Linked DNA regions of Homo sapiens: all the other regions are reported to be linked to region 3. The links are microRNA targets in miRTarBase. Many come from high-throughput screens and were not tested one by one. Region 3 holds a microRNA gene; each other region holds the end of a gene's coding sequence. Distances are from middle to middle.
The links. Region 3 holds the annotated microRNA hsa-miR-455-3p (GCAGUCCAUGGGCAUAUACAC, at 1,872-1,892, opposite strand). A microRNA usually pairs through its seed, bases 2 to 8, with sites in the 3' UTR of a target mRNA and lowers its output. Matches are read on the target gene's strand: a 7mer-m8 pairs with bases 2 to 8, a 7mer-A1 pairs with bases 2 to 7 and ends in A, and an 8mer does both.

Region 1: miRTarBase lists BLOC1S4 as a target of hsa-miR-455-3p. The part of its 3' UTR that is shown has no 7-base or 8-base seed match.
Region 2: the mRNA of HERC1 is a reported target of hsa-miR-455-3p. The part of its 3' UTR that is shown has no 7-base or 8-base seed match.
Region 4: the mRNA of PRPS1 is a reported target of hsa-miR-455-3p. The part of its 3' UTR that is shown has no 7-base or 8-base seed match.
Region 5: miRTarBase lists ADGRL2 as a target of hsa-miR-455-3p. The part of its 3' UTR that is shown has no 7-base or 8-base seed match.
Region 6: the mRNA of RANBP6 is a reported target of hsa-miR-455-3p. The part of its 3' UTR that is shown has no 7-base or 8-base seed match.

What each region holds. Positions count from the first base shown.
Region 1 is chr4:6,716,561-6,720,560 of GRCh38, forward strand. BLOC1S4 (biogenesis of lysosomal organelles complex 1 subunit 4) reads left to right here. Exons shown (of 1, transcript NM_018366.3): 1 at 1-1,104. The coding sequence ends at 303. Among named protein-coding and RNA genes, the nearest start is that of BLOC1S4, 2.4 kb to the left of the region's middle. RefSeq lists an enhancer at 16-655.
Region 2 is chr15:63,605,241-63,609,346 of GRCh38, forward strand. It overlaps HERC1 (HECT and RLD domain containing E3 ubiquitin protein ligase family member 1), which reads right to left. Exons shown (of 78, transcript NM_003922.4): 78 at 3,378-4,026. The coding sequence ends at 3,841. It also overlaps a transcript of FBXL22 not described here. Among named protein-coding and RNA genes, the nearest start is that of USP3-AS1, 6.5 kb to the left of the region's middle.
Region 3 is chr9:114,207,273-114,211,378 of GRCh38, reverse strand. MIR455 (microRNA 455) reads right to left here and starts at 1,945; the gene lies at 1,850-1,945. It overlaps COL27A1 (collagen type XXVII alpha 1 chain), which reads right to left. Exons shown (of 61, transcript NM_032888.4): 11 at 1,651-1,704; 12 at 353-397.
Region 4 is chrX:107,649,180-107,653,285 of GRCh38, forward strand. It overlaps PRPS1 (phosphoribosyl pyrophosphate synthetase 1), which reads left to right. Exons shown (of 7, transcript NM_002764.4): 7 at 761-1,847. The coding sequence ends at 853. Among named protein-coding and RNA genes, the nearest start is that of PRPS1, 23 kb to the left of the region's middle.
Region 5 is chr1:81,990,856-81,994,940 of GRCh38, reverse strand. It overlaps ADGRL2 (adhesion G protein-coupled receptor L2), which reads right to left. Exons shown (of 24, transcript NM_001366006.2): 24 at 1,009-4,085. The coding sequence ends at 3,796. Among named protein-coding and RNA genes, the nearest start is that of ADGRL2, 190 kb to the right of the region's middle.
Region 6 is chr9:6,008,404-6,012,499 of GRCh38, forward strand. It overlaps RANBP6 (RAN binding protein 6), which reads right to left. Exons shown (of 1, transcript NM_012416.4): 1 at 2,622-4,096. The coding sequence ends at 3,887. It overlaps BRD10 (bromodomain containing 10), which reads right to left and starts at 79. Exons shown (of 8, transcript NM_001017969.3): 1 at 1-79. RefSeq lists an enhancer at 1-109 and a silencer at 1-146.

The DNA of each region.
Region 1 (4,000 bases), not on the chromosome of region 3:
GTGCCGCGCATCCACGCGAAGGCCGCCGAGATGCGGCGCATCTACAGCAGGATCGACCGGCTGGAGGCCTTCGTGAGGATGGTGGGGGGCCGCGTGGCCAGGATGGAGGAGCAGGTCACCAAGGCCGAGGCCGAGCTGGGCACCTTCCCCAGGGCGTTCAAGAAGCTCCTGCACACGATGAACGTGCCCTCGCTCTTTAGCAAGTCTGCTCCCTCGAGGCCACAGCAAGCCGGCTACGAAGCCCCCGTCCTGTTTCGGACCGAAGACTACTTCCCTTGTTGCAGTGAAAGGCCTCAGCTCTGACGGCCTGACCACTGCGGCAAGAGGACCCCAGCTGGGGTGCTTACCTCCAGTATGAAGTGAATTGCAAATCCTGCTTATGGACATATATGATGTTGGAGTGTGGGATTTTAAAGTTTACTTTCTACAAACTCTCCGTAGTATATTCATGATTCAGTGTAGAATGTATAGACTTTATGTCTTCCAAGTTTAAAAAAAGAGACAGGGTCTTGGTATGTTGCCCAGACTGTTCGGAAACTCCTGGGCTCAAGTGATCCTTCCACCTCAGCCTCCCCAGTAGCTGGGACTACGGGGTCGCCACTGCACCCAGCCTGTGTCTTCCAGCTCTAATCAGAAAGCTGCTTGTCGAGGGCATGGGGAATCAAACTGAATGAACTTTTCTCTGCACTGTGGCAAAACTGTTATTTTTATGGATTTTACTAAATGGCGTTACCTTTTCAAGATTTATATGTTTGTATAATCATAAGAAAATTGAGCCATTAAAGCCTTGTTATTCAATCCTAATAGTCAGTTTTCTAGAACCTACTTTTAGGGTAAATGGTACATTATTTAATATTATATTAAACCTCCTATAGCGTGGATTGTAGACCAAAGGAAATGGTACAATTTCTGAGAATATATGTTGATTTTTTGTGACTAATTCCAAAGTTGTATTTGAAAGTATGACCTCACAGTCTTCATTTGTCCATAGCAAACATATGTGTGTGTGTGTGTATATATATATGTGGGTTGCCAATGTTTGGTTTATAATTTAAATGTTAATAGAAATTTTGAGTTTTATTGGAAATGATTTCCTTCTGAAAAGAGCTTTACGTATTTCCTTGTGTGTGTTTGAAATAGACGTACTGCTCATGTGCTTTTTTAGTAGTGGGATAAAGAAAAGGGGCTTGAGTATACCTCCTTTAGAGAGCTAATGTGAAAAGCTGTAGCTTCTATTTCAGAGCATGGTATATTTCTTTTCTTTTTTTTTTTTTTTTTTTTTTTTGAGACGGAGTCATGCTCTGTCGCCCAGGCTGGAGTGCAGTGGCGCAATCTCGGCCCACTGCAAGCTCCGCCTCCCGCGTTCACGCCATTCTCCTGCCTCAGCCTCCTGAGTAGCTGGGACTACAGGCGCCTGCCACCATGCCCGGCTAATTTTTTTTGTATTTTGTATTTTTTTTTAGTAGAGACGGGTTTTCACTGTGTTAGCCAGGATGGTCTCGATCCCCTGACCTCGTGATCCACCTGCCTCGGCCTCCCAAAGTGCTGAGATTACAGGCGTGAGCCACCGCGCCCGTCCAGAGCATGGTATATTTCTTTCCTCTCGAAATGGATAGTTAAATTATTTGTGTGAGTGAATGGTATTAGGATTTTCCTGCGGATACAGTAGACTTTTATTGAGATTCAAATCTATTTTATAAGGTGGCCCTCCTAAATAGTAGATGCTAAAAAAGCATACAGCTTAGGTTGCTTTTGTGTCATTTGCAGTGTCATCAAAGATCTTTGAGGTTCATAGAGTAGCTGTATTTTCATTTAGCTGTGTGTTGTGAAGAATCTGATCATGTAATCTTGCACCTAGCTTTCGTGGACCTTCATTGTCACATATTTACGTTTTTTATTCAGGTGGTTCATTGACGACAAATTAAGGAACTCTGAATGTAGAAGCTGAAAGAACAAGTAACCTACATTTAATATTCAGCAACTGCTGGTACCCCTATAAGTAATTCATGTGTTTCGATGACATAGTCACTGAATATGAAAATATCCTTACATAACAAAACATTGCTAAAAGATTTTTCACTTAAAGTTAACATTCAAAAGCAGTAATTAGGGGCCGGGCGCGGTAGTTCACAAGCACTTTGAGAGGCTGAGGCAGGCGGATCACAAGGTCAGGAGATCGAGACCATCCTGGCTAACATGGTGAAACCCTGTCTACTAAAAATACAAAAAAAAAAAAAAAAAATTAGCCAGGCATGGTGGTGGGCGCCTGTGGTCCCAGCTACTCAGGAGGCTGTGGCGGGAAAATGGTGTGAACCCGGGAGTCGGAGCGGAGATGACGCCACTGCACTCCAGCCGGGGCGACAGAGCAAGACTCTGTCTGAAAAAAAAGAAAAAAGAACTAATATCCACCTATCCACCTTGGCACTCCCACAATGCATATTCCCAGTGCTCTGTCCATCCCCACTGCTACCCAACCCATCCAAGCCACTGGCATCTCTCCTGGGCCACTCAACAGCCTCTTAAGTGGTCTCCTGCTTCCCCTTCCCCGCTCCAAGCCACTCCCGCATGTAACACATCAGCCAAAGGGGTCTTTAAACAACATAAATCAGACATATTGGGCTTTGCCTAAAGCTCTCATTAGCTTCTCTTCATATTAGAATAAAGCCCAATTTCTGTTCTCTGGCTTGAGGTGGCTCCTGCCCCCTTGCTCACTCCCCTGCAGCCTTCCCTTGACCTCGAAAGATGCCCCATAGCATCTTTCATATGAGGATATGGAAAGGGGACATATGAACTGTCCCCTTCATAGCGCTTGTTACAGTTTGTGAAATGTGTTTGTGTCATTATCTGATGACTGTCTGCCTTACTCACCTGGAGTAACAAGTGGATGTTAGCTGCATCCACTTGGCTGCATGCTCAGCAAGCAGGTAGCACATCCCTGGTACACTCACATATCTGTGCAATAAGCGATTGTCAGAGTGACTGAGTGAATGAACGACTACACAAAATGTAGGCACTCCATAAGGAATGCGAGACAGAAAGGCAGACAGGAGAATTCAGTCAGACTAAGGGCTGGCTCAGAAATCAAGCACCATGGGAAGACTAGGACACAAAGAAAAACAAGATGTGATTCTTTCCCAAGAGCTGGGCAGGCCAGTGGGTGAGAAAGTCAGACGCCCAATCCAGTTGAGTCCAACCTAAGGTTCAGTCAAACACCACACAGACATTCCCGTGGGCTCCAATGGGGCTTTGTTCCTAATCGTGCCCTGGGATGTTGATACAGAACTTACAAAACTATCCTTCTAAGAAGACTCCTTTTATGTGCTGAGAAGTTATCCAGATTCAGGCACAGTGGCTCATGCCTGTATTCCCAGGGCTTTGGGAGGCCTAGGCCAGAGGATCACTGGAGGCCAGAAGTTCGAGGCCAGCCTGGGCAACATAGTGAGACCCCGGCTCTACTAAAAATACAAAAATTAGCCAGGCACGGTGGCTCGTGCCTTGTAGTCCCAGCTACTCAGGAGGCTGAGGCAGGAGGATCACTTGAGCCCAGGAGTTCAAGGCTGCAGTGAGCTGTGATCACGCTACTGTCCTCCAACCTGGGTAACAGAGCAAAACCCTGTCTCAAAAAAAAAAAAATTAATTTAATTAAAAAAACCACAAACCACCATTTCCCAAAGTGACTGAAACCATTTGACCCACTAATGGAGAATGAGAGCGTCTCCTCTATACTGTTCATGGTCCAAGGGAAGCAAGGGTTCCAGCGGTCGGGTGTGAGCCCGTGGGAGGGAACTTGGTCATCAGGAAGGATGCGAGGACCCTCTGGCTGTGGGGTGTGGGGTCCGCGGTGGCTGCAGAGACTGGTCCCCCCACACCAGGGGGCGCTGCAGGAGCGGGAAAGGCCTGAAAACAGCTGGTCCAGCCCCTGTCCTCGGGAAACTAAAGCCTTATATCCTGCCACGGTCACTGGGCACTGGAAATTCAGAGCCCCAAGATCCTGTCCATG
Region 2 (4,106 bases), not on the chromosome of region 3:
GCAGCTGAGGTTGAGGGGGTGTTCTTGAGTGATCTCCAAGCTTTGCCATTCATAGCTTTTGACGAGATATGACCTCTCTGAGCCTCCGTTTCTTTATTTGTAAAATGGGACCAATACCCTCTTGGGACTGGGGGATAGGGGGAGGTATCCTCATATCCTTGGGGGGCTAGAAAAGCTGAGTGCCTGGCACAACACACAAATCCCAGGCACTGGGAAGAAGCAAGCCAGGTCTATCTGTGGGTAAGCCAGGCACCCTTTGTGGCAGACAGAGCTTTTGAGCTGGGCCACAGGTTCCAACCGTTAAGGAGAATATTTCCATTGGCAGGCATGGCACAGCAAAGGCAAAGGTCAAGAAGCCCAAGGCATATCCAGGGAAGGGGTGAGCCAGGGCTGATGGAAGCCTGATTGTATTCCCGAGCCACCCAGAAATGGTTTGGGATTATCTATGCCCTCACAGCCTCTATTAGATCATAGACATCCCTCAACTCCTGCAATGCTAACTCTTTCTAAGGTTTGGCCAAGGCAGCGAATGGTCACTTGCAGGTGAAGGTGGTGGGAGAGAACAGAACCTCACCACTGGGGCAGGACACTGCTCCCTGGCTGAAGGCTGACCTGTCACCACGTTGCACTGGTCTGCATAGGAGCCCCAGTGCCGGCAGAGAGACCAGGGCCACAGGCTCTTAGGTCAGGGTTCCAGATCTCCCCCAGGAGGCAGCAGGCTGCTAGCAGGAGGTGGTGCTCTGAGGCTTGTCTTACAGAGACACACTGGCCTGTTTCTGCACAGGATGAGTGTTCGGAGGGGAAGTGACTGAGCCACCCCGGCTCTACCACGGCACGCTGACAGGAAGCAGAGGCTCCCAGTTCTAGTCGGGGCACACCTATGATCCAACTTTCCCTCTCCTGACCTTGGATTCTTGGTTTATAAAGGCAGAGATCATCTGACCCCTTAGAGACTTTCCCTCCAGCTCTAGGATTCAATGCCCAAGATCTGCTTTTGGCTAAAAACCAAGCTCACAAGATGTGGGCTTCATCCGGCCAGAAGTCCTGGGCAAAGGCCACAAAGCTAGGAGGCCCAGAACAAAGCCATACTTTGAAGGATGTCTGGAGAAATCTTAAATTTTAAAAACTGATGGTCAACGTTTGCTTGAGGCTGCTTAAGGGTCATAAAAACTGCAAGTATCTGTTAAGTGAATGAGGCCAGCAAACAACTGCCTAAGCCTCTCTAAGAGCTGAAAGTAAACCAAGGGAAGCACCTGCACCAGGCCCACTTCAGCTCCTCAGATCAGGGACTTGTGCTTCCCCCTTTCCAGAGTTTTCAAAAAGTCAAGAGAGGCCGGGCACAGTGGCTCATGTGTGTAATCCCAGCACTTTGGGAGATCAAGGTGGAAGGACTGCTTGAGGCCAGGAGTTCCAGACTAGCCTGGGCAACATAGTGAGACCCTGTCTCTGCAAAAATGAAAACATAGTCAAGACAATGAGGAAATAACAGTTTCTGGCAACGAAACAGTGTGTGTTATAAAATCATGGCACTGTGCAGATTCCCCTCACAGGGTCAAACCTGAGCTGCTGTCTGTTAGCCCTGAGCCCAGGACCTGCAACCATGAGTGCCAGCCTTCTGGGGGTCCTCCTGCCCCCGAGTCCAGAGCAAACTGTGGCAGCAGCACAGGGTGAGGCATTATTTTGAATTTAGAGACTGCAGAGGTATCCTTTGCTCTGCATGTCCTCAGCCCAGCTCAGCAAGAGGGACGCAGGAAGCGGCTCAGAAGACCCTAAGAGGCCTCTCCTGGATTCGTCCAGGATCTTGGCAGCACAGATGCTTTTTTTTTTTTTTTTCTCACTCTGTCGCCCAGGCTAGAGTGCAGTGGCGCGATCTTGGCTCACTGCAAGCTCTGCCTCTCGGGTTCATGCCATTCTCCTGCCTCAGCCTCCTGAGTAGCTGGGACTACAGGTGCCCACCACCATGCCCAGCTAATTTTTTTTATTTTTAGTAGAGACGGGGTTTCACCATGTTAGCTAGGATGGTCTCGATCTCCTGACCTTGTGATCCACCCGCCTCGGCCTCCCAAAGTGCTGGGATTACAGGCGTGAGCCTTTCTTTTCTTAAATTCTCTCCTGGTCCAGAGGCCCAGGCAGGGCCTTCCCACCCCGAGCAGGAGGGCTTCAAGCCCAAAGCCCTTCAACGATGCTACTGACTGCGCTCTTAGATCGGTATTAAAGCCTCATCTTTACCCAGAACTCCTGGGGTTCCCCCCAAAGCTGGAGTCTCTCCCTGAGACCCAATTCTAGTTGAAGCCTTTTTTCAATAAAACGAAGATGTCATCATTCTAAATATTATTAGGTATTCTCACTAAGAAAGATCCATTTACCACATTATCTTAGCTGGCAAAACCTTATTTTTCTTTTAATTTCTCTTTGAAGACATACACCTATCTTCCTTGTGGAAAATAACTGCCTGCAGAGGGCTGTCTGTCTGGCACCTCATTTGAGCAGGCTGTCGGCAAAGACCCTGTCCGCGAAGTACAGTGGAAGTAGCCTGTGGCATGAACTTGCTGTAGGTGAGGGAGACAAGCTGTCCACAGGCCTTCCCCTCTTCCTGCACACACTCCAAGAGGCCAAAGCCCTCCCAGCTGCTCTCAAGATGGCCCTTTCCCCCAGAAACACAGGCTCACCCTGATGCTGCTGAACACACACACAGCACTCAGGGCCCGCAGGGGCTAGCTGAGTTTGAGCACCAAGAATGTAACCCCTTCCCCAGACCTCTGCACAATTCTATCATTCAAGGATATGAAAGCCACTCATCAGTTCTCATGCTAATTCACACATTCACTCACTCATTCACTCATTGATACATGCTAAGTGCCTGCTAGCAGTTGCTGGCCTTTCTGTAACACCTTCCACTTGGCTGCCCTCCCCACTGAGACATGTTGTAAACTACCCTGTTCTTTAATTCCATCACGTGCTCATTTTGTCTTTGTAGGTTCTTCATAGGAAGGGCCAGATGGCATTACTGTGGTCCTCTTCCTCCTTGTCTGGTAGAGTCGCCCTCCACATGAGGTAGCTGGGGCTGTCCAGAGAAGGATGCGTGGTACTGAGAGGGGCGGAGCAGCTGAGGGAACAAAGTCAGAGAGACCCAGGATGACAGAAGAACAATGGAAAATAGGGGCTTCCAACCCAGAGGGATCTCCTAGAACCACACGGTTCTCTGATACGTTATTTCCAAGTGAAGCCCACCCTCAATGTAAAGAAATGTTTCTGAATGGGTCAAAAAGCCATCAGAGCAAGACCAGCCTGGAAGCTCATTCTGTTCTGGGCTAATGTCTGCCTCGATGGTAACCCCTAGTCAGAAGCTCCGCAGGAAGCAATACCAAGAGCCACGCTCCAATTCCTGAATCTGCTTTATTTCTCTGCATAAGGAACCCTGAACAGGCAATTCAAATTAAAACAAAATAAATATATGAATATTCATGTAAAACTGTCCTTTCTAATGAACAATTATACACAATGTACAATTTCATGTTCACTGGGTGGATTTACAAAAATGTACCATTCCCAACTAAAAATGCACCAAAATGGTTTCATGCAAACTTATCAAAAGTGACCAAAAATATGGAGGGAAAAACCTGACTGAGAGCACTTCGTTTTTGTTGTTTTTGTACAATCACAGAAAAATAAAAACATCTAATTTCTTTGTTACATTTAGAGTAACTAAATGTGGCCATTGTTTATAATGTTGGTTTATGTTCTTATAACATCTATGTAGTTACCATAAAAGTATATCAACATCAAATCAGAAGTGAGCATTATTGAGGGAGAGAAGGGAGGGTGAGAGCACCCGCACGGTCAGTAGTCAGTGTCGGAGCCCTCGGCGTTGTCCACGTTTCTCGAGAGCATGTAGTTGTCCATGTCGATTGAGCGGCAGTTGTTGATGGCATAGCGCAGGCGCTCGGCCATGACCAGCTGGCTGGAGTACGGGGGCAGCCTCAGCTGGAAGAAGCAGGTCTGTGAGGTAGGCAGACTGTCGTAAGGCTGTGGAGAGAGACCCAGAGCCGTGACTGGGGACATCAGAGTGCCATAAGGGGGAGTGGGGCTGCCCATGACCTCTCCCT
Region 3 (4,106 bases):
AGAGTCACCTGGTCTAGCCAAGGTCCCCCGGTCACAGCAGACCCACAGACACAAATACCTTAGACAGAAGCCCCCAGACACAGAACTGCACTGGAGAGCCACTGATGCCCACAGGGAGACAGGAGCTACCCCAGAGGGGTCCAGAGCCCATGGAAGCCCCAGCCCCAGCCAGGCCCCAGTCACGCCGTGTGCCAGCAGCAGGTCCTGTGGCCAGACAACCCCACATGCGGCCCCCACACTCAAAGCAGGGGGAGAAGCAGAAGATGCCAGGCAGCAGGTGGCCAGGGCAGCGTGGCCGTGGGAGGTGGGGTTCCCCGCTAGAGTCTGCGTAATAGACACGGAAAATCTTTACCGGCATACCCATCTTGCCCCTCTTGCCAGGAACGCCAGGCAGGCCCTGCAGGGGAGAGACAGGGGAGAGGTCAGGGCAGGATGCCAGCAGGGACAGCCAGGCTTGCCCCAAACCAGCCCAGAGCCACCCACGGCAGGAAGTCACAGAGGGCCTGGAATGTGTGCCACTTGCGTGGCGGCCCCAGTGACATGCACATCAGACGGATGGCAGGGTCGGGGTCTGTGGTGACCTAAGAGACAGAGAAATGCCAGTTCCTGTAATCAGCAGGTGCTTCATAAATGCTCAGGCTCCAGCTGTCCTAAGGTTCTCTATACCCAGCTTATGGAGGTTACAAGTGAGTTCCCATAGATACGGGCTCAGGTTGGGAGGGGGCGGGGAGGAAGATCCCGAGGCCACCACCCCAGGGGCTTCTAATGGACCTCCAGGCTGGGCCAGGGGTCTGTGAGAAGCTCCCACACCATCTTTTGGACTCCTCTGACTTAGATACTTGGTCTGGAAGGACAGGGTGTCTTAGGAAATCTTAGCACCCACTGCCCACCACCAAACCAGTCCCACCACCTTCCCCAGACAGCCGCTCCCCCTGGCTGCTGGAACTCCTGCCACCTGCTCTTGCTGTCCCCACCCCCAACCAACACATTTTACTCAAGTAAACCAACTGATCTGTCTAAAAGAGGAATCAGCAGATGGTTTCTGGAAAGGGGCAGATAGTGAATATCTTTGGCTCTGTGGGCCATACGGTCTCTGTCACACCTACTCAACTCTGCCATTGTAGTGAGAAAGCGGCATTGACAATATGTAACCAAATGAGCAAGGCTGAGTTCAATAAAACTGTTTGCAAAAACAGACAACTGGCTGGATTTGGCCCATGGGCCACCGTTTGCAGACCCCTGATCTATATTATAAAGTGGGCCCGGTGTTCATTGGTTGCAAGTCCTCAAGAGGCTCCGCATACCCTCAGAACAGAGTTCCTTTTCTAACCTTAGTCCTGGGCACCTAAGACATTGCCCCAGGGTCCTCTCCAGCCTCAACTCCCACCACTCTCACCCTCTCACGCAGCACTTTGGCAGTGTTGAGTGTTAAACTCGCCAAGTTACCGTAAATCCCTGACTTCGCACATGCTGTTCCCTATGCCTGGAATGCATCTGCCTTGACTTGTCCCCTTATCAGACTCCTACTCGACTCAAGTGCACCTCCTCCAGGAGGAATTCCTTGACTTCCCCAGGCTGGTGCCTGGCAGGTTCTGCTCTGTTTGGGCAGGGGTGGCTGTGGATGGTGAATAACCAAAGAAGCAAACTTACTCGTTCTCCATCAGACCCTGGCAGGCCGAAGAGCCCTGGGAGCCCAATGTAGCCCTAGGAAAGAGAAGAAAGGGGGTCAGAGCGGTCAAGCAGTGAGGTGTGGCTGGCCCAACCTGCCGCAGCCCACCCACCACTGCCATCCCACATCCCGGCTCCTCCTCTTCCTCCCTGGTGGCAGTGGCAGCTCCGGTGGCTCCTCGATGACATAGGCCTTGAGGCAAGTGTATATGCCCATGGACTGCATGGTGCTGGCTTCCACGATGTAGTCCAAAGGCACATACCCTCACGCCAGGGAAGGGCGCAGGCGCTCGCCGGCAGGAGGCCCGCCCCACGCCAGGGCTCCAGGACCTGCAGAAGGAAGCTCGCGGCTGGGTTAGATGCTAGCACGGCACCAAGCCCTGCCCACCCCCAGGGATGCTGGTAGGTGCCCGTGGCTCCTGCCATGGCTCCTCCTAGGCCTTCAAGGTCCTGGATGTAGGGCTTACATCCACCTCTGGCCGCCTGAGTGCTGGCATTAACTAACAGCGGCTGCGAACCCGGAGTGCCAACATTGTGCCAGGCACATGCATGCTACCACATTAGACTCTCACAAGGACCCCCCAGATTGTCACCACCCACACTGGACAGACAAAGAAACTGAGGCTCTGTAGATAAAGCAACACGACTAGTCAGTAGTGGAGCTGTGAATTCTCTTCGGGAATTCCTAATCAGTTCAAGGGTCACCCAGGGCCAGCTGACTCCACAGCTGGGGCTCGTCACCATTCTGGGGCTCTTCCCTAGGATGCATCTCATTTCCTCCCTCCCAGCCTTTCCTCACTCTGTCCCCTCCACCAGGCATGTCCTTCCCATCCCTCATGACTTCTGAGCCAAATCCTTCAAAGCCCAGCTCTCATAAGCGCTCTCCTTGGGCAAGCATCCCTGATACCCCAAGCCGGAAGCAATCTCTCCCCCCCATCCCCAGTGCCATTTTTGCACCTCGGTAGCATCCTTCTCCACTTTCTCCCTTGTATCTTCATTATTTGTGTTCATGCTTCACGTCCTCATTAGCCTGGGAACTTCTAAAGGGCAGTAACCTCGCCCGGGGCTTCTACCACTATCTGCGTGCCACTCTTGGTGGAATGATTTAATAATAACTCTAACAAAAGCTAATGTTTATTGAGCACGAATGATAGGCCAGGCCTGCTGCCAGTGCTTTGCATATATTAAAGCATTTATTCCATCCTTATCACACCCCGAGGAAGTATTATATTTTATTATTTTTTTATTTATATATATTTTTTGAGACGGAGTCTTGCTCTGTCATCCAGGCTGGAGTGCAGTGGTGCGATCGTGGCTTACTGCAACCTCTGCTTACCGGGTTCAAGCGATTCTCCTGCCTCAGTCTCCTGAATAGCTGATCACAGGTGATCACAGGTGTGCACCACCACGCCCAGCTAATTTTTGTAGTTACTTTAGTAGAGACGGGGTTTCGCTATGTTGACCAGGCTGGTCTCGAACTCCTGGCCTCAGGTGATCCACCCGCCTTGGCCTCCCAAAATGCTGGGATTACAGGCACGAGCCACCGCGCCCAGCCCTGAGGAAGTATTATTACTCAGCCCCCTGTAGAGGTAAGACCATTTAGGCCCAGAGGGGTGAAGCAACTTGCCTAGGACCAAACAGCTGAAATGTGGTAGAACTGGTATTCAAATTCAAGTCTTCTGACTCCTGGGCCTGGGCTCCTAACCACTCTGCATACTGCCTCTCCTCAAACAAGCAACCAATGGAGGCTCACAACCATCTCTCCTTCCCTGGAAGGCCAAGAAGCCACTGAGCCTCCTCGTTGGCATCCAGCATGATTAATATCCATAATCTGAAAGAGTGCCATTTACTGCCATTCCAAATAGTGCTTATCTCCCAGATTTACAGGTGAGAAAATAATTGGCTCAGAGAGGCCCAGTGACTTGCCCAAGCTCCCACAGCTAGCTAATGGCAGGGCAGGTCTCAAAGCCTGTCATCCTGATTCCAAAGCCTGCCCTCTGCCTACTTCAGAAATATGAGGCTGGTGGTGGCAGGGTTGGAAGGGCAGCTTGAGTGACTCACTGCTCATCCAGGCTTCCCACCCAGGGCTGTGTGGCCTGTAAGAGACAGGAGTGCTGGGGCCAGACCAGTCCTCTCCTGCTATGTGACTTTGAGATGCCACCAGCCTGGCAGGCAAGTCGAGCAACCCCAGATGTCATTAACATGCCTGTCCTTCTGGCAGGTCAGGAGATCAGGACTGGGGCTGGACTGAGAAGACCTTTCTCCTTGGGTTTAGGGGGTCCCTCTGGGGGAATGGCCCATGGGAGCAGCAGAATAAAGGAAGAGAGGCACAGCACCCTGGGACAAGAGCCTCCTTAGGCCCTGCCTGTCACAGTAACCTCCTGGGGAATGCACCTCCCCGCCCCCACTCCCGCCTCCCCACACTCTCCTAACAGCCA
Region 4 (4,106 bases), not on the chromosome of region 3:
GCTCAAGCGATCCTCCTGCCTTAGCCTCACAAGTAGCTGGGACTACAGGCATACACCACAACCACGCCTGGCTAATTTTTGTTTTATTGTAGAGACAGAGTTTCACCATATTGCCCAGGCTGGACTCAAACTCCTGGGCTCAAGTGATCCTCCCACCTTGGCCTCCCAAAGTGCTGGGATTACAGGTGTGAGCCACAGTGCCCAGCCATTTTGATGAACCAAAGTCAGCGTTTTTTCTCAGTTAGCATTTTGACTCTTTCCTAAGTGGCTGTTTTGTTTTGTTTTGTTGTTTTGAGACAGAGTCTCGCTCTGTCACCCAGGCTGGAGTGCAGTGGCACGATCTTGGCTCACCGCAACCTCCACCTCCCAGGTTCAAGCAATTCTCATGCCTCAGCCTCCCGAGTAGCTGGGATTACAGGCGTGTGCCACACCATGCTTGGTTAATTTTTGTATTTTTAGTAGAGACGGGGTTTCATCATGTTGGCCAGCCTGGTCTCCAACTCCTGGCCTCAAGTGATCTGCCCACCTTGGCCTCCCAAAGTGCAGGGATTAACAGGTGTGAGCCACCGTGCCCAGCCGTAAGTGGCTATCTTAAAAATGTTATGAAGAATAGCTGAGTGCAGCCTCATGACAGGGAAACAGCACAGTGTTGCAGTTTTAAGAGGAAGGGCACTTGCCTGGCTGCTCATCAGTGTCTGCAAATTGGCCAGTCATCTCTGACCATATGATAGTAACCTGATTTCCTTTCTTGCCTTTCTAGGTGATTGACATCTCTATGATCCTTGCAGAAGCCATCAGGAGAACTCACAATGGAGAATCCGTTTCTTACCTATTCAGCCATGTCCCTTTATAATAGAGTAACTTCTGAGGCTTTTTGAGAATAAAATCCACCCCACCCTTGTTTCCCCTTGGTATTTGATGACAAATTCAGCAGAAGACCCGGCTTGCTCCAGTGTAGCTTTCTACATCCCACATCAGGTATATTAGAGCTTATCCGAACTGGGGAAAGACGGATTGAGATTAACTGCTGGGACCTCCTACCTGCATTATCTCATTCTGGCTTCCTTGATAATTCTGTGGGCCTTGCAGCTTTAACTATAGCTCAGCTGCTGCAAGATTTCAGACTTTTGAGGATGTTGTGTGAGGGTGTTTGACTGTGACTGGGGAAGCTCAGACTACTTTGTATGTGAATGCTTCAGGGTTTTCTTTGTTGAGAACAACTAGCAACAAAGGCAACCCATGTGTGACCAGTTCTCCCCAAGGTCTATGCTAAATTATAGCAAGAGCCCTGGGCAACCCCAAACCTAGTCCTGGTAGCTGAGCACCCTGTAAGGCAGGAGCAGGCAGCTCAGCTTGAGCAGACATTGGGTGGGGGGTGGGGGGTGGTTGAGGGGGGAGGCAGCACAGTGCAGCAAATGTTTCTTGGGAGGAAGAAGCCTGATCCATCACCATCTGCTTGACTATGTAGCTTGGATTCTCCTTTGTACCTATCCCTTTCGATTTGGCTTTACCTTCATCTATCTTGATCCTTTCCTGGCCAAATATCCTCTTGGGCCCAAATGAACATTGTACCATAGTCTTCTGGAAAGCAAACATGCTTCCTGCTATGTAATTGCTAACATTCATATTAGATGATGTGCTGTAGCTTGATCTTCCTTAGCCTACTGCCACTGAGGCAGTAGGTTTTAGGTGGTATCGTAGTGCCTTTTGATTAATTTAAGTATTTAATTTTCATCTTCCTTCTTTGGATCTATTTGGCCTCTCAAATGAACTGAGATTCCTGTTAAAAAAGATTGATGTTATTGTCTCTTGTAGAGGAAACTAATAAAGTGTGTGTACCTGTGTGATTTGGGGTCTGTATCATACATAATCTGTACTGATCTCTCTGCTAAAGGTTTGGTTTAGATAGATGTCTTGCTGTCCATTGATAGCTCTTATTTGTTTCCAAACTACGTTAGCTTCATTGTTAAACCAAGAGAAGACATTGGCAGCAGTTTTATTCAACTGTAAGACTAAGATGTCTGGAGTTTACTGAGAATGTGATAAGAGTGTAATTCTGTGCAGTATACCTAAATTATAGCATGTATAATGTCTGGTGGATCTCTGGTTCTTACTCCTGAAGATCCAAATTAGGTATTTTCTTATGGGAGGAGAATTTCTGTGATTTATTCATTTTGAACTAATTTTGCCAAATGTGATAATTTCCTTCCATTCATCAGTAATTGACATACGTTTGGCATTTACTTTCTTTGTTTTTTTTGATTTTTTGGTTTTTTTTTGAGATGGAGTTTCGCTCTTGTTGCCCAGGCTGGAGTGCAATGGTGCAATCTTGGCTCACTGCAACCTCCGCCTCCCGGGTTCAAGCAATTCTCCTGCTCAGCCTCCTGAGTAGCTAGAATTTATAGGCATGTGCCACCATGCCCAGCTAATTTTATATTTTTAGTAGAGACAGGGTTTCACCATGTTGGTCAGGCTGGTCTTGAACTCCTGACCTCAGGTGATCTGCCCGCCTCAGCCTCCCAAAGTGCTGGGATTACAGGTGTGAGCCACTGGTGCCCGGCTGGGCATTTACTTTCATCCCTGCTAAATAAGAACTATTTTGAGAAGGTAAATGTGCAAAATTTAAGGATGAATTATTATGCATTCCAAAATTTTAAGTTTCCTTCTTTCTTTCCTTTTTTTTCTCTTTCTTTCTTTCCCTTTAGCTCTCTCTTTCTTCATTTCTTTCTTTTCTTTCCTTCCTTCTCTTTCTCTCTCTGTCTGTCTGTCTGTCTTTCTTTCTGTCTTTCATCTTTCTCTTGCTCTGTCACCCAGGCTGGAGTGCAGTGGCTCGATCTTGGCTCACTGCAACCTCCACCTCCTGGATTCAAGTGATTCTCCTGCCTCAGCCTCGAGAGGGATTACAGGTTATCTGGGATTACAGGTGTGCACCATCACACCTAGCTAATTTTTGTATTTTTAGTAGAGACAGGGTTTTGCCATGTTGCTCAGTCTGGTCTCAAACTCCTGGCCTCAAGTGATCCGCCCACCTTGGCCTCACAGAGTGCTCGGATTACAGGCATGAGCCACCATGGCGGCCTTAAGTGAGTGAGTTTCTTGGCCCATCATCAAATAAGGGTGCTCTTTTACTTTGGGAAGCTACATGGCTACAGAGCTTCATGAAGAGTGCTTCCTTATTTGTGAAGCCCAGGTCTACTTTTGTTTATTTTGTTTTTGCTTTTGTTGGATATCGGGATATCTATTTTACAGCTAGCTCTTTGATAAAAGTGATTCAGGAGGGACTAAAGTATACTATGAAATGTGCGCCTCTAACCCTCTAGACCTCTTTAATCTCAGATTTTTGCTCTGGGAGAAGCTGATGTGAAGCACCAATGCCTTCACTTGCTCATCATGCTATTTCCTAAAGTATTGGATCAGTGGGTCAGGTCTCATTGTTACAGAATATTTTGACATTAAGATCTCTCTTGTGGGCCCCTTTGGGTAATTCATTTCCTAGGATGAGGTTTTGAGATTATTCAAAAAAGGCCCAGTCCCCAACTTTGATCCCTTTCAAAGCAGTTGTTTTTTGTTTTTGTTGTTTTTGTTTTTTGAGACAGAGCATCGCTCTGTTGCTCAGGCTGGAGTGCAGTGGCACGATCTCGGCTTACTGCAACCTCCGCCTCCCGGATTCATGTGATTTTCCTGCCTCAGCCTCCCAAGTAGCTGGCTAATTTTTGTATTTTTAGTAGAGATGGTGTTTTACCATGTTGTCCAGGCTGGTCTCGGACTCTCGACCTCAGGTGATCCACCCGCCTCAGCCTCCCAAAGTGCTGGGATTACAGGCATGAGCCACGGTGCCTAGCCTCAAAGCAGTTCTTGACTGTGGGGAATAGTAGCAGGAGCAGACCTGCCAGGGCATGAGGAGGAGGCAGCACCAAAGCTAAGTGGAGTTGCAGCGAGCACAGTTGACAAGAAACTCTAGTTGTGATAGCTACATGATTGCCCTTGAACACCTGTCTGAAGAATGGAGGTACAGACTAAAGCAGGGGTAGGAGGCTGGCTCTGTTTCCTGACCTAATGTAATGGCTGCTTTTCACACACAGAATGTGTTTACTCAACATCTCTAT
Region 5 (4,085 bases), not on the chromosome of region 3:
TGCTGTTTAAGGACTACTCCCAATCAACTTGGTGCTCACTAGCAGGAAGCATACGATATGGCATTTTCACCAAAAAAAAAAAAAACACAAAACTAATTTTATTATGCTGAGAAGTAATTCTCATCTACATTCAACACGCCAGTAACTTTCCATACTGACATTTGAGATTTAATGAAATAATTTCGGGGAAAGAGAATTAGCTGGAACACAGGATTGTGTAAACTCTAGGTACTAAGCTTTATTTGTAAAATACTGCAGGAAGGACTGCCTTTAAAGATATCAGTATGGAGAAAATACAAAGAGCTATTTTCATTTCAAAAATTCAACTAGTGTGAATTTCTCCAAGTTTTTCTACTTAGAAGGTTGTAACTTACTGAGTTAAAATTGTTTACAAAACTCCCTGTCCCACAAGAGGACATTAAAAGGTCAGTTTTAAGCTTGAGGTTCAATGTTGAATTGAAGGAAAGATACATTTTCTCTTTTCTCATTGAAATAAATACATAAAGCATAGTAAATACATCCATAAAACAAGTGCATGTTAATTTTTTTTTGAAATTTAGCAATAAATTTGTGCATGATGCTTCTCTTCTTTTTGGGGAGAAGACAGTGATTTTCTGTCAAATAATGTTTTACTGGTTAAAATATTATATGTCACTGCCCTCAAATGTGGATGAGTGGAAATCGAGGACATATTTAAGTGATTTATAGATTTGTATGGATTCTCTTCCACATAAATGAATATAAACACCTCTAAGACAAAAATATATAAATGGATAAACTATAAGTGGGTCTTGTGTGTGTGTGTGTTTTGCAAATAGAACGGCCTTTTTTAAAAAACAAGAGGTCAATCTGGACTAACCTGTAACAAGTCACATATAAAACAAATGTACACAAACATCCTTATTATGAATAGACTAATGCTGGGCGCAGTGACTCACACCTCTAATCCCAACACTTTGAGGGGCCCAACTGGGAGGACTGCTTGAGACCAGGAGTTGGAGACCAGTCTGGCCAACAAGATAACGTTTATTATTATTATTATTATTTTTAATAAAGACAGAGTGAATGTCTCTAGGAAGAACTTTAAAAATGTGACTTTATAAGTTCACAGTTGTGACTATCACAAAGAGAAACAATCAAGAATGTGAAAACTGTACATTCAGGTGAAGTCTAGGCAGACCCAAAGAAACTGGGTTAATAAATACAATAACGCATCTGCATTAAAACAGTCAGTAGTTTAGTAATTACAAACCTAAGAAACTACCTTGTACTAAGGGAATCCTAGATGGAATTTAAGGCAATATTTATATATTTTTGAAAAGAAATGCTTTAAAAATGACTTTTCTTTTGATGCCAAAGATCAATGATGGCTTCCAAATTGAATCCATAGGATAAAGACGTTAGAGAACAGTAGCCATTTAGGTACGATGCAGTGTTCATGTCTTTAGAGTTTTGAGAACTGCCTCAAGAGAAAGAAATAGGACTAACTGAATAATCAGTGTTGCCTTTAAAAAAATTTATTACTGAACCAGCCTGACTCTAGGTAGCTTGTATACTAGGAATTACACATCACACAATACTGTATGGTTTTAGGCATTTAAAATAAAAAGTATAACAAGATGGAAAATTAAAAATACTTGATTATCTAATGCCCTCCTTTAGCAAGTAGTTTATAAATCCCTGAAGAATTTTAGCCAAATAAATGAGTACCATTCTCAGAGGATTGTTAAATCTGTTTGAGAACCTGGGAGGCGGAGGTTGCAGTGAGCCGAGATCACACTACTGCACTCCAGCCTGGGTGACAGAGGGACACTCTGTCCCAAAAAAAAAAAAAAAAAAAAAAAAAAAAAAAATATATATATATATATATATATATATATATGTATATTATATATATGCACTTAATTTTTAAATCTCATTCCTTTTTAAATTCAATAGGCATGTGTGTGTCCACATAAAAGTGATTTATAAGCTAGTGGTAGTATTTGAGAATTATAGCAAACCATTAAGCTTTAGAATAATTTTCTATAAATGCTTATGATACAAACAGAAAACATCTATTTCTTGATATTCAATTATATGATTTTTGAACTTGGAGTAAAACTTTTCCAGGGTAATGTATATTGGTATTCACAGCTGTCTATAGGGATATTTATAATCCTTAAAGTATGTTTAAGAAACTTCCCAATACTGCTGAAAAATCAGTTAAAAACTTTTTATGATACCCAAATTTGATGGCAGAACTTCCAATCCTTCTTTTTTTAGTCCTGGTACAATGCAACAAACAAAAATGCTTTCAGAATATATCCCTCTTAAAACTTATCCAGCAGATTTTGTGCATATGTAGTGGGCAATTGGAAGACATATATTCCTTTCAGCATAAAGAACAAACAGGCAACTTAATTGTATCCTTTCATATATCCATGGACTTTGGTATGACGTTACTTAAACCAAGGTGGGAATGGACCAACATGTTAAAGCCAATTATGTATCATACATAAAAGTTCACATGTTAACTACTTGAAAAAATTCACATTTATTTACTGTCAAACCGTGTTAAACTTTACACTGGATATTAGTGATGGGCTCATTATTAACAGGTTTACACAAAGGGATGAAAAAAAAGCAGAATTTTGCTGAAACAATTTACATTTCATTAGAACTTTATCATAAAATAAATTAATTACTAAATATAGGCAGAAGGAATATGGAAGAGTAATATTTATGTTTTATTTTATTTTTTTAAAAAAGAATAGGCACCTTTTGTTCACTAGAAAGTTTGTGAGAAGTGCCCAGTGCCCTCTTTGCCCTCTGTTCAAGAATAAACAGGGGTGACACACAATCTTTTCTAGATTTCATCACTTTTGTGCAAGGCATGACATAACTGGCTTCAAAGAGTTTGTTTCTCCCCATAAAACACGTTCTTTTGGCAATAAGAAATTTAAATGTAAGTAATAAAGACCAACTTTGTCAAAGCAGAACACTGTATACAGTGGAAAAGAAGTGAAAATGAGTAGAACTTACCATGACAAAGTGTAAGAAAAAACATTTCATAACATGTGCAACCAAGAGCTTTTCACAATATTTTCTTCACTCTTTAAAATTATTTTAATGACAATTATATTTCAGTTGGACACAAATGTATTTATTTTACCCTAGCAATAGAACAAAATATAATTTCTTTAGCCATTTTTCATGAGAATAGTTCATTGTACAGTTGAGGAAACATATGAAATAAGGCCTGTGGCTTGATTGCTAGTGGTTAAGCATGTTTTCAATCTTTGCCTTAATGTAAAAGATTTGCAGTGAACTGCAAACTGATGCAGAATATCTCTCCTGCTTTTCCAAGTCTTGTCAGGAATAGTAAGGTACAGTAAATTTGTCCCACAGGATTTTAAAGCCTACGTCTTGTATATAATACAATGCAGGCCTACAAAAATGGTGCAGCCATATTTACAAATTTAGTTCACAGACTGCTGCAGTAAAATGGCTGGAAAGTTTTGTTTTGCTTGTTTCACAATTTCTCTAAACAGCAGCAGAATCTTAAAATACCTGGCTGGCATCTCTTTTCTTTGTAACAAATAATTCACTTTAGTATACTCTGTGTATATACAAAGTTTTTGTATGTTTTATAAAAATTCACAGAACTGCAAGGTTCAGTCATCTTTTTTACACCAGAGAACCACAGGTCAAGAGTCATCTCTTCAAGCAGAGTTTGAGGGAGCTGCGTCAGGCCAATGGTGTCTTTATTTATTAATACTCGCATGTGGCCCTTGGAATTCCTTAGCTGTATGATTAAAGACTTGTAACCAGCTGCATTTGTCCTTCTCTAACATCTCCTTCTGGAATACACCCTTCTTTGTTAATGGGGATTATATAACCATCACTATTGCCCCTGCTGATCTGGTAGCACATCTGAAGCTGATGGCCAGCTCCAAGATTTGGCATGCTTTTATAGTAAATGTCCTCATTCTCACTCCTCCTGGAGGGAGAGAGGTCTTCTTCCATGTCAGGGCTGCTCTCCGGATAGGGAGAGTCTCTAAGATTGGGCATGCTTGTATAAAGAGAGTCTCTGTTGGGGGACT
Region 6 (4,096 bases), 110 Mb from region 3:
CACTCAGCCCCCCGGCTGGGAAGAGCTGTGGAGAGAAGCAAAGAAAGAGGCCCTGTCGCCATCCCCGGTGCGCATGCGTAGTAGAACAATTCCCCCCTCCCCCCCCGCCACCATCGTGCCCCGCCCCGCTACGCAAAAGGAAGAGCTTCGGCTCAGCTACAGGCCCAGAAGCCTGCTAGGGTTGCGCGGACCAATGATGTAATCAATCGTAGGCCAATCGAACATGTTGATGGAGGGGGAAGCAAGGCGCCTGCGCAGCTTAATTCGCTACCGCCTGGGAAGGTGGCCAAAAGGCTTTTTTTAAAGCAAGTGCTTCAAGAGGAAACTTCTTTTGCAAGACCCGTGTTAGCCCCCCAAACTAAAATTAAAGTTGCTAGATAACCTTTGTTAATGGCAAATGAATAGTGAGAAAGCGCAAAATGTAAATCTTCTCTACTATAAAATTTACATTCTGTTCCCACCCTTTCTCCCTTGTGACTGCGGGTCTTCTATATATAACCAGAATTTTGAGAAGTTTAGAAAGAAAGTTTAAGGACTCGACCATACGTTCACATGCAGAAGAAAAGGAAGTGATTTTTAGAACCCCAGCTCTTAACATCAATTCATATTTTGGAACTAATTCCATGTTTTCAGTTACAAATTTCCACCCTCCCGATTCTTGAGATCTGTTAAGAATAAAGAGAATGGAACCTCATTTAAACAAATTCTTGGGACTGAAAACAGTCAAAATAGTTCATGTCTGAGTTGTACAGCATTAAACAGTTGTTTGCATGGGCTGATAATCTCACTACATTTTACAATTACTGTTTAATGACTAAAAAGTGGACTCATCATTCACATTGGTTTACATGTTACTTAAAATTAGTTGGGAGGTAGGAATTCATGGTTCCATAAAGCAAATACTACTATTTCCTCATGTTCTATTTGAAAGACGCACATATTATTTTTTCTAGGTACACAGAACCCTCGTTAAAACCTAGAATTACCTAAACACAAAAACAAAATTACAGAAATCATGCATTTTAAAAGTAAAATGTGTATAACTAAATGATTAGGATACTCTGACTCTTGCAATTGTTTACTTCTCATTAATGTGAACTTTAAAGCAGTGATAAAATTTTTTTTTAACCTCAAAGCTGTTTTTGTCCAGTAAGTTAAGTATCACTCTTAAGTAAAATAGTGAAGCGGGAACGCTCTGTTAGGGTATTCACACTGTCCTCCACACATACCTTTTATCTAGTATTCGAGGTCTCCTCTCATCAGACATTTGTAATATATAACGCATTTACAGGGTTCTCTCCCCTCAGAGAAGAGTCTGTGGACTCTGAAGAGTCCACAGAACCTCAGCTCACAGAAAGAAAAATGCAGGGATCAGTCTTACTTCAGCACCTGGCAACCAAAACGTGTGTCTGACTAGACATTCCTCCTTTCTTTCGACAAAGCCCAGGAATCTGAAGCCCAACGTACCCAAGCAAACATCCTCTACTCCTCTTTAGTCATCAGCTCTATTTCATGACTCTTGGACAATATTAGCTTACATTATTGAACCCTGTGCCACTAAGCACTTTATATTCATTGTCTCCTTTAATCTCACAACAAGCCTATCAGCTAGGTATTAACCTTATTTTTCAGATGAGGAAACTGCCTCTTAGTTTAAGAAAGTTGTTAAACAAAGTTAAAATCTAGGTCTGTCATACTTCAAAAACTCCAGGTGCCTAATTCCAAGTCATCTGGCAGAATTTCTAATTCCTCATACATAAAAGTGTAGGGAATTGCTAGAAATGTTGATAAAGGGTTTCTTAATTAAGATTATATAAAAGAGAAAGGTGTGGGTGAGTAGAAGGAACCTCAACTCTAGGTTATGAAGAGGTCAAGATGATAGCAACTTAACTATAATGAAAGTAGGATCGGGTCCTTGATCTTAAAAAAGAAACTCTATTACACAAGAAATATGGGCTGGGCACGGTGGCTGACACCTGTAATCCCTGCACTTTGGGAGGCTGAGGTGGACAGATCACCTGAGGTCAGGAGTTCTAGACCAGCCTGGCTAACATGGTGAAACCCCGTTTCTACTAAGAATACAAAAAATTAGCTGGGAGTGGTGGTGCGCACCTGTAATCCCAGCTACTCGGGAAGCTGAGGCAGAATTGCTTGAACCTGGGAGGCGGAGGTTGCAGTGAGCCGAGATCGTGCCATTGCACTCCAGCTTGGGCAACAAGAGCAAAACTACATCTCAAAACAAACAAACAAAACAAGAAATATGTTGGTTGTAGGTATGTAGGTAAATTAGAAAATATAGGTAAGTGAGGAGAAAATTTGCCACTTAATCCTACCACCTAGAGAAAACCTCTATTAATACTTTGAGGTGGGATTTTTCTATTCATTCTTCTATACTTTATTTATCTTAAATATACTAAAAATTGTGATCATACTATACATAATGTCCTTAATTTTCCTTTTTCCCCCATTAGTAATAATTACATGGAATGGACAGAATTGCATATCTAAAATCTCAACTTTATATTCTTGTCAACAATAGCCTAAATAGCCTGCCAATATGAATGAGTAGGGAATGGATTGGGAAAATTCTAAAGTAAAAGAAGTTCCAGACACAATAGAGGTACAAACAACAACAGCAATAACAGCTACAATTTATTGAGCACTTACTAGGTCTTAAATATTTGCTAAATACATACACAGTACTCACAATAGCCCCAGGAAATTATAGATGTATTTAAGTTTTGGATCAATGAGTAATCGTTAGCTGAGTAGAAAGCTCTTTTCTACCCTACAATAAGCTCGACATTAAAGACTGACATTCCAATTAATATAATTAACCCTGGACTTATAGAACTGTTTTCTCATAATAATGCACATCTACTGCTAAATGACTACTCTCAAAGTTGTTTTCTTTTTCATGTTCAAAGAAAATTACATTTCTTTCCTTTCACTTTTCCAATAGAATACTCTTCAGTTCTACTCTAGAATCTCTTAGGAAATTATTTGAAATAGAAATCAATTTAAGCCCTATAACTAGAGCTTTTTCTCTTGTTGAGCTGCTTTGCAGGGAGAAAATGGCATACATATACAAAATAATACTCTGCTGAAACACATAACACTGACTCCCAAGAATACTGCTTACTTACTCTTTGTCAAACACTGTTACATGCTACCAATATTAGATGTATCAGGACTCCCTTTTCAGTAACTATGGTTCTTGGAGTCCTGGATAACTTAAAAAAATAGAGACCTGTCTGGCTAAAGAAATTTAAAAGTTCTCTAACTCTCAACCAGACACCTTGGGAACTACAATATGGATATGTCCTACCCAGTTCCCAGGAGTACATTATGAAGAAGTTCATATACATCCCACATCCACTGCAGTATCTCAAAACTCTCCTAGTAACAGCATCCTCCCATCACCACAAATACCAAGAGTATTAATTAAAGAGGGACAAGCCTGCCACTATATCCTTCACTCACAATTCCAAAGATGTTTGTCCTGGAAATTCTATCTTATTTTTGTGAGCTCTTAGCATATTGTGATAGCATGACATCTTCACATCAAGTATACTGCTTGGCTAGCATCAATAATAGTTCAAACAAATAGCAACAATTTATATACTTTACATCAACTAGGGGAAAGGTGACAAACATTGTTTAAGACAGTTTGAAGCACAGGTTATCACCAAGGTCTGTGTTTGGAAGATAAAACATGCGAGATAAACAGAGGACTAACACTGATTAATTCTGGAGAAACATGGAGAAGAACTATAAACTGCTTAGCAGGGAGAAAACAGTTCTCTGATTTATAATAAAATCTATTCACAACACTTATTTGTAGTTACTTTTATAATAGATAATATTCAAGTTATATTAAAGTGCTTCAAGCAAAATTTAGCAACTCCTGTAAGGCTTCCTGCTGTTCATCATCAAGTTGTGATACACATTCCAACCATAAATCTTCAGAAGTCTGTACCTGACGCACGACATTAGCTAGGCGTTTGGCACAAGGATCCTCATAGTTAATAGTCTCATTAATTTTTCCTTCTGCAATTATACTGATTATTTTGGGAAGATTGGAATTATTTGGACC